2 separate regions of the Homo sapiens genome follow, and region 2 is reported to be linked to region 1. The links are microRNA targets in miRTarBase. Many come from high-throughput screens and were not tested one by one. Region 1 holds a microRNA gene; the other region holds the end of a gene's coding sequence.
Evidence for each region. Region 1 holds the annotated microRNA hsa-miR-6755-3p (UGUUGUCAUGUUUUUUCCCUAG, at 2,391-2,412, shown strand). A microRNA usually pairs through its seed, bases 2 to 8, with sites in the 3' UTR of a target mRNA and lowers its output. Matches are read on the target gene's strand: a 7mer-m8 pairs with bases 2 to 8, a 7mer-A1 pairs with bases 2 to 7 and ends in A, and an 8mer does both.

Region 1 (4,392 bases):
ACTATATTATGTAGGCTGTCCAGTAAAACTCTAGGGGCACTGTTCACTTACATGAGGATTTCTGAATCCTGGTGCTATTTAGTTTAGGCCAGATAATTCTTTTTTTTGTAGGGGGTTTCCTGTGCATTATAAGATATTTAGTAGCATCTTTGGCCTCTACCCATTAGAGCACAGACACATTGTCAAATGTCCCTTCGTGGGCAAACCACTGACCTAGACAGTAATATGAATAGTGCCCACAGTTTTGCAATTTTTTCTCATTGTATTCTTTACCACTTACTGCTTAGGTATGTGCATACAAATTTGATTTTATAGGATAGGAAAAGTATAAGTTTGAAGCCTATTTCAATCCTATCCCCATATGAGTGTCTTGATGTTAAACAACTGCTTTACTTGCCTTCGATTGCCCTATTTATAAACTGAATTCTAAGGCTATTTATGTGAGTTCATCAACTTTCCTAAGATACCTGTTGAGTACCTACTGTGTGGCACAGATACTGGATGAAGGAATAATAGTTAATAAGGTAAAGGAAACCACCTGTGATTAGAAGCGAAATGGGAGACTGCATGGGGAAAGATGAAACTAGTGAAGTAAGCAAGAGCCAGATTAATGCCGGATTCTGAAAAGCCATGTATTCTAATTCTGTGTGTTTGTAATTGACCTGTGCTATAAAACACTTAAAGTCTCTGGGTGTCAGAGTATCTAGAGCTGAACTTGGTTTAACTTGAAAGAGAAATGTTGACTTCCAAAATGAATATTTCAGACAATGTGATTCTTTTGTATTATCGAATTCTGTTGATAATCAGATTTCTTGTCCTTAAGTATGGTCATTGACTGTAAATATAAATGAATGTACATCACTGTACTTGATAGATGGATTAACCAGGTTCTAAGAGCTGTGAATTCCAAAACAATAGAAAAGCCTTGTTTTTACTTTGTAAGATTCAGTTCCTCATTAACATTTCTTTTTCTCATTTCTCTCTCTGTTTTAGTCTTGTGAAAATGCCATTGTGTGCTGGAAACCTGGCAAGATGGAAGATGATATAGATAAAATTAAACCCAGTGAATCTAATGTGACTATTCTTGGGCGATTTGATTACAGCCAGTGTGACATTTGGTACATGAGGTTTTCTATGGATTTCTGGCAAAAGGTATCAACATACTTTTACATTTTGAAATGATCTGACTTATGAAAGACCATTGTAATTCTAGCTTTTTCTGTTGTGTCCATGTTCTTTTTCCTTTACAAATCTACCCTGATGTTTTGTATTGATTACTTTGCCCTTTGATGTCATTCATCAAATACTTTGGTGTTATTCATTCTACTTTTGTGGCTCTGCATATGATCTGCAGTGCTTACTTTAAATTAAGTTGGCAGTTAGGTATCAATGGTGGAAATTAGGTGTTTATGTTCCATAACATAAACATTATCATAACATTACTAAGACTTAATGTTTTAGTAATTAGATTGTCAGTCTACCTATGTAACTGTTTCCTAGAGAAAAATCAGGATAGAAGACAGATAAAATACTAGTTACCTAAAAATTTAAATAAATCTATTGTTAGGATTTTCTGGTAACAAATTACTTGGGTATTTATTTCTGTAAGAAAAGTTTGGAAGGCTTTCCACAGCATTTGCTGTATTTCTTGAAGGCAGAAGAAAAAGTAAGTACCATGCTAACAATGTAAATTTGTAAGGCCCTTCATAAATTTGCACAATGCCTTCTTACTTGCTCAAGACACTTGTGATGTATTAATTGCTCTTATTCATATTTACGAATCAGGAGTATAAGACCCAAAGAAATAGCCAAGAGCACAGAGGCTGGAACTGAGCTTTTTCTGAAACAAGAAAGCTGTCTGAGGATTCCTCCAATGCTTTAGAACCTGGTAATTTTATTAATTTGATGTTTTTAAAAATATGTTTATACAGATGCTTGCATTGGGCAATCAAGTTGGCAAACTTTATGTTTGGGATTTAGAAGTAGAAGATCCTCATAAAGCCAAGTAAGTATTTAGAAATTTCTGTTCAAAATTTCAGGCTTTTTCTCCACACTTGTATGCCAATGTAGAGAAGATCATTTATATTTGCAGTGCCATCCTTAAGTCATTTTTAACATTTACTGTTTTCAGAGTTAAAGTTATTCTTTTTTATTCCAATAATTTTTGTTTTTCCTAAGTACCTTGGTGACAAGTCATTTCTTGTTTTTATACAAATTATGTAGTGCTTGTTGAACTTAAAATATATCTAAATTTTATAAAATTTGAGACTGAGCTCTTAGTGAAGTATATTCTGGTTTTAAGTGCTTTTCGTATGACTTGGAACATCTGCTTATTTTCTAATCCGCTGTTTTAGGGTAGACACTGACAACGTTATGTGTGGTCTTTAACCTGTTGTCATGTTTTTTCCCTAGATGTACAACACTGACTCATCATAAATGTGGTGCTGCTATTCGACAAACCAGTTTTAGCAGGGATAGCAGCATTCTTATAGCTGTTTGTGATGATGCCAGTATTTGGCGCTGGGATCGACTTCGATAAAATACTTTTGCCTAATCAAAATTAGAGTGTGTTTGTTGTCTGTGTAAAATAGAATTAATGTATCTTGCTAGTAAGGGCACGTAGAGCATTTAGAGTTGTCTTTCAGCATTCAATCAGGCTGAGCTGAATGTAGTGATGTTTACATTGTTTACATTCTTTGTACTGTCTTCCTGCTCAGACTCTACTGCTTTTAATAAAAATTTATTTTTGTAAAGCTGTGTGTTTAGTTACTTTCATTGTGGTGAAAAAAAGTTAAAAGTAATAAAATTATGCCTTATCTTTTTATAATGGTTGTTTTTTGTAGTTCTCTTAACCAGAGAAAGTTTTGTAATACAGAGATTAAGTATAGGCTCTAGAACTAAAGTGAATTCAAATCTTGGCTCTCCTACTACGTGACCTTGGATAAACAACTTCTCAATGCTTGGTTCCTTGTGTATAAAACAGGGATAATAATACTTGCCTTGGGGTTATTGTGAGGATCAAATGATTCGTTATGTGTGAGACAGTTAGAACAGTATTTGACATATAATAAGCCCTAAATGTATTCTGTGTTTATAATTATTGGAGATTATAGTTCCTATGGTTTTATATTTTTTAATGATTTCTTATGTAATAGTTTCATAAGTAATATTTAAAATTCTACAGAGTTAGAACCTCTGATAATGTTTAACTGTAACCTTTCTTTATAGTTTAAAAAATATTACTGCCATTAGATTTGGAACTAGGCCATTGGTAACCTTAGAGGAGATATCATTAGGGCAAAGGAGGAGAGGATATAGAAGTTTAAATGCAGTGGGTTGGATCATGAAAGAGATGGCAAGTATGTCCATGTAGTGAGTTGTTGCCCCTTTTCTAGAAGGATGTTACTGGCTAAGAGGGATTAAGTAGATTGAGATCATAAGGTTGGGAATAGTTGGTTATTTTGTCTCCAACATAAGGCACACTGCATTTATTTGTGGGCAAAAATTCCCTAAAGAGTGAAGACCAAGATCACATGTGGAGGGGTTAACTTGAAGCAGAGGAGTGAAGAAAGCCTGAATGATCATAAAGCTAAGGTTGGAGGTGAAATGAGGTGAGCCAGAGAAAAATACAAAAGACTGAATTTTGTCAGGTTTTTAAAAAGATTCATGAACTTGTTTCTATAAATATGTATATTTTTAAAGTTTAGTTTTGATATCTTGTACAGTGTTTGATACTGCCCCTTTTTGAGCTATCTCTGAAGCACAGTTTACTTCTCTGATAATAGTATAATGCTTAAGTCTGAATAAACAGGAAAACTTACTGCCTTTTACTGTCTTGGTCCAATGAACGCTTCAATTGTTTTTTAGAAATTTTAATAGGAACTTCAAGAAGTAAACCTTTATAGCAAGTAAATTCTTACGTACAGCATCACAAAAGACAAGGAATACTGTCATATCCTTTTAGCAAAATGAGATTGCCTAGGTTCTTGTTGCAAAATACCACATAATGAAATCCTTCCTGTTGCATGATTAACTGGGTGAGAATATCATCTTTCCTTTTGGTCCGTAGAAATGTATTATTCACTACTCCATTCTTGAGGTTTGTTTTTTAATTTTTTTGGAGACAGTCTCACTCTGTTGCCCAGTCTGGAGTGCAGTGGTGCGGTCTCAGACGTCTCACTGCAACCTCTGTCTCCCAGGCTCAAGTGATTCTCGTGCCTCACCCTCCCAGGTAGCTTGGATTACAGGTGTGTGCCACGATGCCCAGCTAATTTTTGTATTTTTAGTAGAGGCGGGGTTTTATCATGTTGACCAGGCTAGAATATCGAGTGTTAAAGTTAGTGCAGATAATGAAAGATCCAGGAGTCAGAACTCACAGGCCAGTTATCAGCC
Region 2 (4,392 bases), not on the chromosome of region 1:
GTGGCCCCTGCCCAGACCCCCCTCTGCCTGGGGGAAGAGAAGCAGATGCCTGCAGGTGTAGACTGCAGGTCGGAACCATGGGGATGGGTACTCATGGCCACCAAGGGGACCACCCCTAACACAAGAATGCCGCCTGTCCCCGTCCCCTCCCCAGAGCTATGGGTTCCACCTGGTTTGCTGTCAGGTCTTTGACCACCAGGGCCTGGGCATATGAGCTACAGAAAGACGGGCCTCTGAAGCATCGGAGGGGGCCCCAGAGCCTTCCTGGGCAGGAGCTGCCTTGCTTCACGTGACTCGGCCAACACCCGCCCAGGGTTCCCTGACACATTGCACCCAGGACATCCCCTTCTTCTGTCTCCGGGCCTCAGTTTTCCCAGCTGTCCTGATTCCTTGTGGCCCTCGGCCACAGGGCTCCATCTGCCTGGTCTCTGGCCAGGTCCTCATGCCAGTTTTGCACTCGTGCTGAGGGTGGCTTGGTGCATGGTGGGGGGCTACGCAGGGCAGATGGCATTCATCTTTGGCTCGAGGGCTGACCCCTTCCCAAGATCTGAGGTGACAGGGCCTGTCTCACCCTCAGCCTTGTGGTCTGGCCCCTGGAGGCTGCTGGCCAGATCGATGCAGCCAGCTGGTGCACATGCCACTGTCCCTGGTACACCTGTGTGTACCCAAAGAAGGATCCAGGGAGGGGAGGGAAAAAGAGGAGGCTTTTGCCCACAAAGTAAACTCGTGTCTCCTCCACGCTCCCCACCACAGTCCTGACCCCAGGGACCTGAGTAACCAGGGAAGCTGCCCATGGGTCCACTTGCCCTGGGGCTCGGTGCTCTAGAGACCACCGGTTCACCTGCACAGCCTTGGAGGGCCTGACTCAATTTACCCCACAGCACTGTACCCATTTCCTGTCCCCTAGAGCCTTTGATCACCACAGCCAACTGCCCTGCCCACCTGGAAGGGCACTGGAGTGTGGGTGGGGACAAGATGGAGCCCCAGTGGGGGAGAGAGATGAGAAGAGTCCCAGGACGTCTACCTCCGAGGGAGGCAAGTCCCCTTCGTGGGCACGGGCGTGTCCGCTGCTGCCGCTGTGTGGGTTCGGAGCTGGAGAACCGCAGCCCTGGAAGGAGGAGAGGCGCGCTTCTGCCACTTAACCGAGAGCCCAAATCCCAGACCGGTCCTTGCTTCTCTGAAACCCACAAAAGCAAACCTTGGGGAGCTTGCTGGGCCTGTCACTGAGGAATGGAGGTGGTGCCGGGGCCAGGGCAATGTCTGGAGGACAGACTCGATCTATCTTGACTTTCAGAACGAGGTTTCTGTTGTCAGACTTGGTTCCAGACGGTACCTGACCGGTGGTGACCCGACAGGATCCATCCTTATGATGCTCAAAGAATGAATTTTTACCACCGTGAAAGAACCACCAGCAGGCAAACCGCTCCTCCCCTCGGGGCCACTGTTCGGATTTCTTTGAAAATCTGTTTCCTACACTTCGCAAACTCCTGCGGTTTCTGTTTTTTATTTGGCAAACATCTCGTTTATTACCATCATGAATATCATTTGGACCTCTGCAAAGACTATATACATTCACATTAACGTACACGCTCAGCTTCAGGCCTCTGGCGGGCTGTTCGTGGCTGGTTCAGTAGCTGGGTCACTCCCGTATTGCACTGAGTTCCTAGAACTCCTGATAGCCACGCACACAGATGCCAGGCCACGGGCCACGCCACGCGCACAGATGCCAGGCCACGGGCCACGCCACACACACAGATGCCAGGCCACGGGCCACGCCACGCACACAGATGCCAGGCCACGGGCCACACCACGCACACAGATGCCAAGCCACGGGCCACGCCACACGCACAGATGCCAGGCTGCGGGCCGTGCCTGCTGTCTGTCCTTGTACTCGGTGCAAGCATGAATTTCTTTATCCCTTTATTTCCTTCTTGAAATCGCTGAGGCAGTTGAGAGGAGTGGAGGGAGGGTGGGCAGGGCTGGAGGATGGGAGGGAGCACGTCTGATAGAAAACGTCACCGAGACACACCCCAGGGCCAGAGGCGAACGCATCTGAGGGGTGGCTGGGCAGGAGCACCAGGGCTATGTACACGGTCAGGGTCTTCCCTGGGGAGGAGGCAGAGGGCTGCTTTTGTTTGTAGTTTTTTTGTTTTTTCTGCAAAAGTTTGGAAGAAAGGGGAGTAGCTGCGGTGGGGCGATGGGGCCGAGAGGTTGGAGTTGGGGCGATGGGGCTGAGAGAGGTCGGAGCTGGGGTGAGGGGGCCGAGAGAGGTCGGAGGGCGCGGAGAGGAGAGAGGTAGAGGAGGACGGGCTGGCCGAGAAGCAGTGTTTCAGGGAGGCCTGCTGGCTCCGCATGCTCGAAAAGCAGTCGAGAATCAACCCAAAAGATTGTCACAGTTTTGTTTCGGAATTATGCTCTCTCTGGGAAGAAAACTTTAGCACTTTTTTTCCACAAGTGGAAAACGGAAATATGAAAAGTCACAGGGGGCGTGAGGACAGACGGCGTGTCCTTTCCTACACATATGGAGACGCAGGCCGGAGCAACGGCACACGGACCACGCACACGCGGCGGACGCACCAACGCCTACGCAGAAGAGAACAAAAGTCGCTTCTAACTGGGCACAAACCCTCTGCACCCAAATATCCCGACACCCACAAACAAAATCAGAACAGAAGAGAAAAAGACCCACATCCAAACAAACCCAAGAGCAAGTGAAACAGTGAAAAAAATACTTTGGCAGTGACAAACAAATTTTGGATTTTGATTTCTTGTGTTTGCTTTTTTGGATTTCCTTTGGAGCAGAGGTGTGTCCGGTATCCTTGGCTGGCTAGCTAGCAAGGTAGTTCACAAGTATGCTTCCTTTGCTTTTTTAAAAAAACTTTTTGGATTTTTACTTAAAGCCAAAGAGTTTAACATTACAGGAAAAAAAAATCTGAAACCAAAAATGCATCTTGAGTCAGAAATCGAAATCTTTCCTCCCGTCTTCGCTGATCAGCCTCACGCCCCTGGGGGAGGGGCACAGCTGGGTTCAGATCTCCAGCTATAAAATCGCAGTTTTCTTTCTCCCTTTTTAATCAGGAGGGGGAGAACCCCCCCGTTTTCTTTGTCCATTTCTGAGTAGCTCTTTTGCCAACACACAAAACCCCCCAAAATTCTTTGCTGAAAATATAAGCCACCAATTCGATTTTTTCATTGAAGAGAAAGTGTGTGATAGTCATAGAGAGAGAGAGGATAGAGAAGACAGAGGGGGAGAGACAGACAGAGAGGAAAAGAGAGGTGGGCAGAGCCGCCGCGCCTGCGGCATCTGCTCTGCTGTCTAAAGCTCAGTCGAGGCTTCTGAGGATGCTTGAAGAGACGTTGTCAGGAGGTCTCCGCGCGGAATCATTAGGTAGCTGAGGCAGGTGCACTGAATGCGGTTTTGTTGGTTCTGTGTCTTCTTTCGGAGAGGGGCAGTAGCAGCAGTGACTAATTGGTCGGCTCCCCCAGGTCAGGCGGGGCGCAGTGTCTGGCAGGCCAGGCATCGGAGGCCAGGCACAGCATCCGGTGGGCCTGGAGCTGGGTGGGGTTGGCACGGTGCTGTGTCCGGCAGGCCAGGGGCCAGTGGGGTCAGCGGGGCACGGTGTCCAGTGGGCCAGGTGGGCTGGGGGAGCCGGGGCGAGAAGGCCCCGCAGAGCCGGCTTCGCTGGGGCTGGCAGCACCCACAGGCAGGGAGGGGCCCAGGCTGTGGGCGGCTTCGGGCGGTCCAGGCACCGGGTCGGCCACCACGGCTGTGGGGCCCTGCAGGCTCTGGCCACACACGTGGTGATGCTTCTCCCAGTCCCGATGCTGGCAGAAGGACCCGCAGTAGCGTGCCGCGTTGCAGCCGCTGCACGTCTCACTGGCTTTCCGCCCGCAGTTCCAGCAGCTCTGGGTGGGGGCAGAGGGGCCAGTCAGGGCTGGGTCTGGCCACCCGAATCCCCAACACACGCCTCAACCAAGCCATTCAGACCCAGCCACGTCATCACCAGGTGAGAAGAGAGAAACTCCAAAGCCCCACAGCCCTCGGGCCATGCTCCAGATACAGCCACTCACTGGGCCATTTTGCGGGACGGCATCCCACTACCGTGTCTCACGCTCCAGCCCACCCAGATAGGTCTGCGCTGTGCTAACTGGACAACGACCCCTGCCTCCTCTCCAGGAAGCCCTCCTGAGCTCACCAGGCTCCAAAACCGCAAAACCAAAGGGCGTGGCCCCGGCAGGATTGAGGCTGCTGAGATCTCACCATCCGCCTCTGCTGCATCCACACCCACCCGTCCCCCTCCCCACCTCTGCCCCACCCCTGCCTCTGCTGCACCCCCTCCACCTCTGCCCCCACCCTGTGGTGGGCTCTGCTCCCTTCCCGTAGGGTGAGTT

Region 2: miRTarBase lists CBFA2T3 as a target of hsa-miR-6755-3p. Seed matches in the 3' UTR shown: 7mer-m8 at 3,357-3,363.

What each region holds. Positions count from the first base shown.
Region 1 is chr11:86,275,987-86,280,378 of GRCh38, forward strand. MIR6755 (microRNA 6755) reads left to right here and starts at 2,347; the gene lies at 2,347-2,412. It overlaps EED (embryonic ectoderm development), which reads left to right. Exons shown (of 12, transcript NM_003797.5): 10 at 994-1,152; 11 at 1,932-2,005; 12 at 2,413-2,824. The coding sequence ends at 2,539.
Region 2 is chr16:88,873,370-88,877,761 of GRCh38, forward strand. It overlaps CBFA2T3 (CBFA2/RUNX1 partner transcriptional co-repressor 3), which reads right to left. Exons shown (of 12, transcript NM_005187.6): 12 at 1,489-3,906. The coding sequence ends at 3,607. Among named protein-coding and RNA genes, the nearest start is that of PABPN1L, 8.9 kb to the left of the region's middle. RefSeq lists a silencer at 1,123-1,275.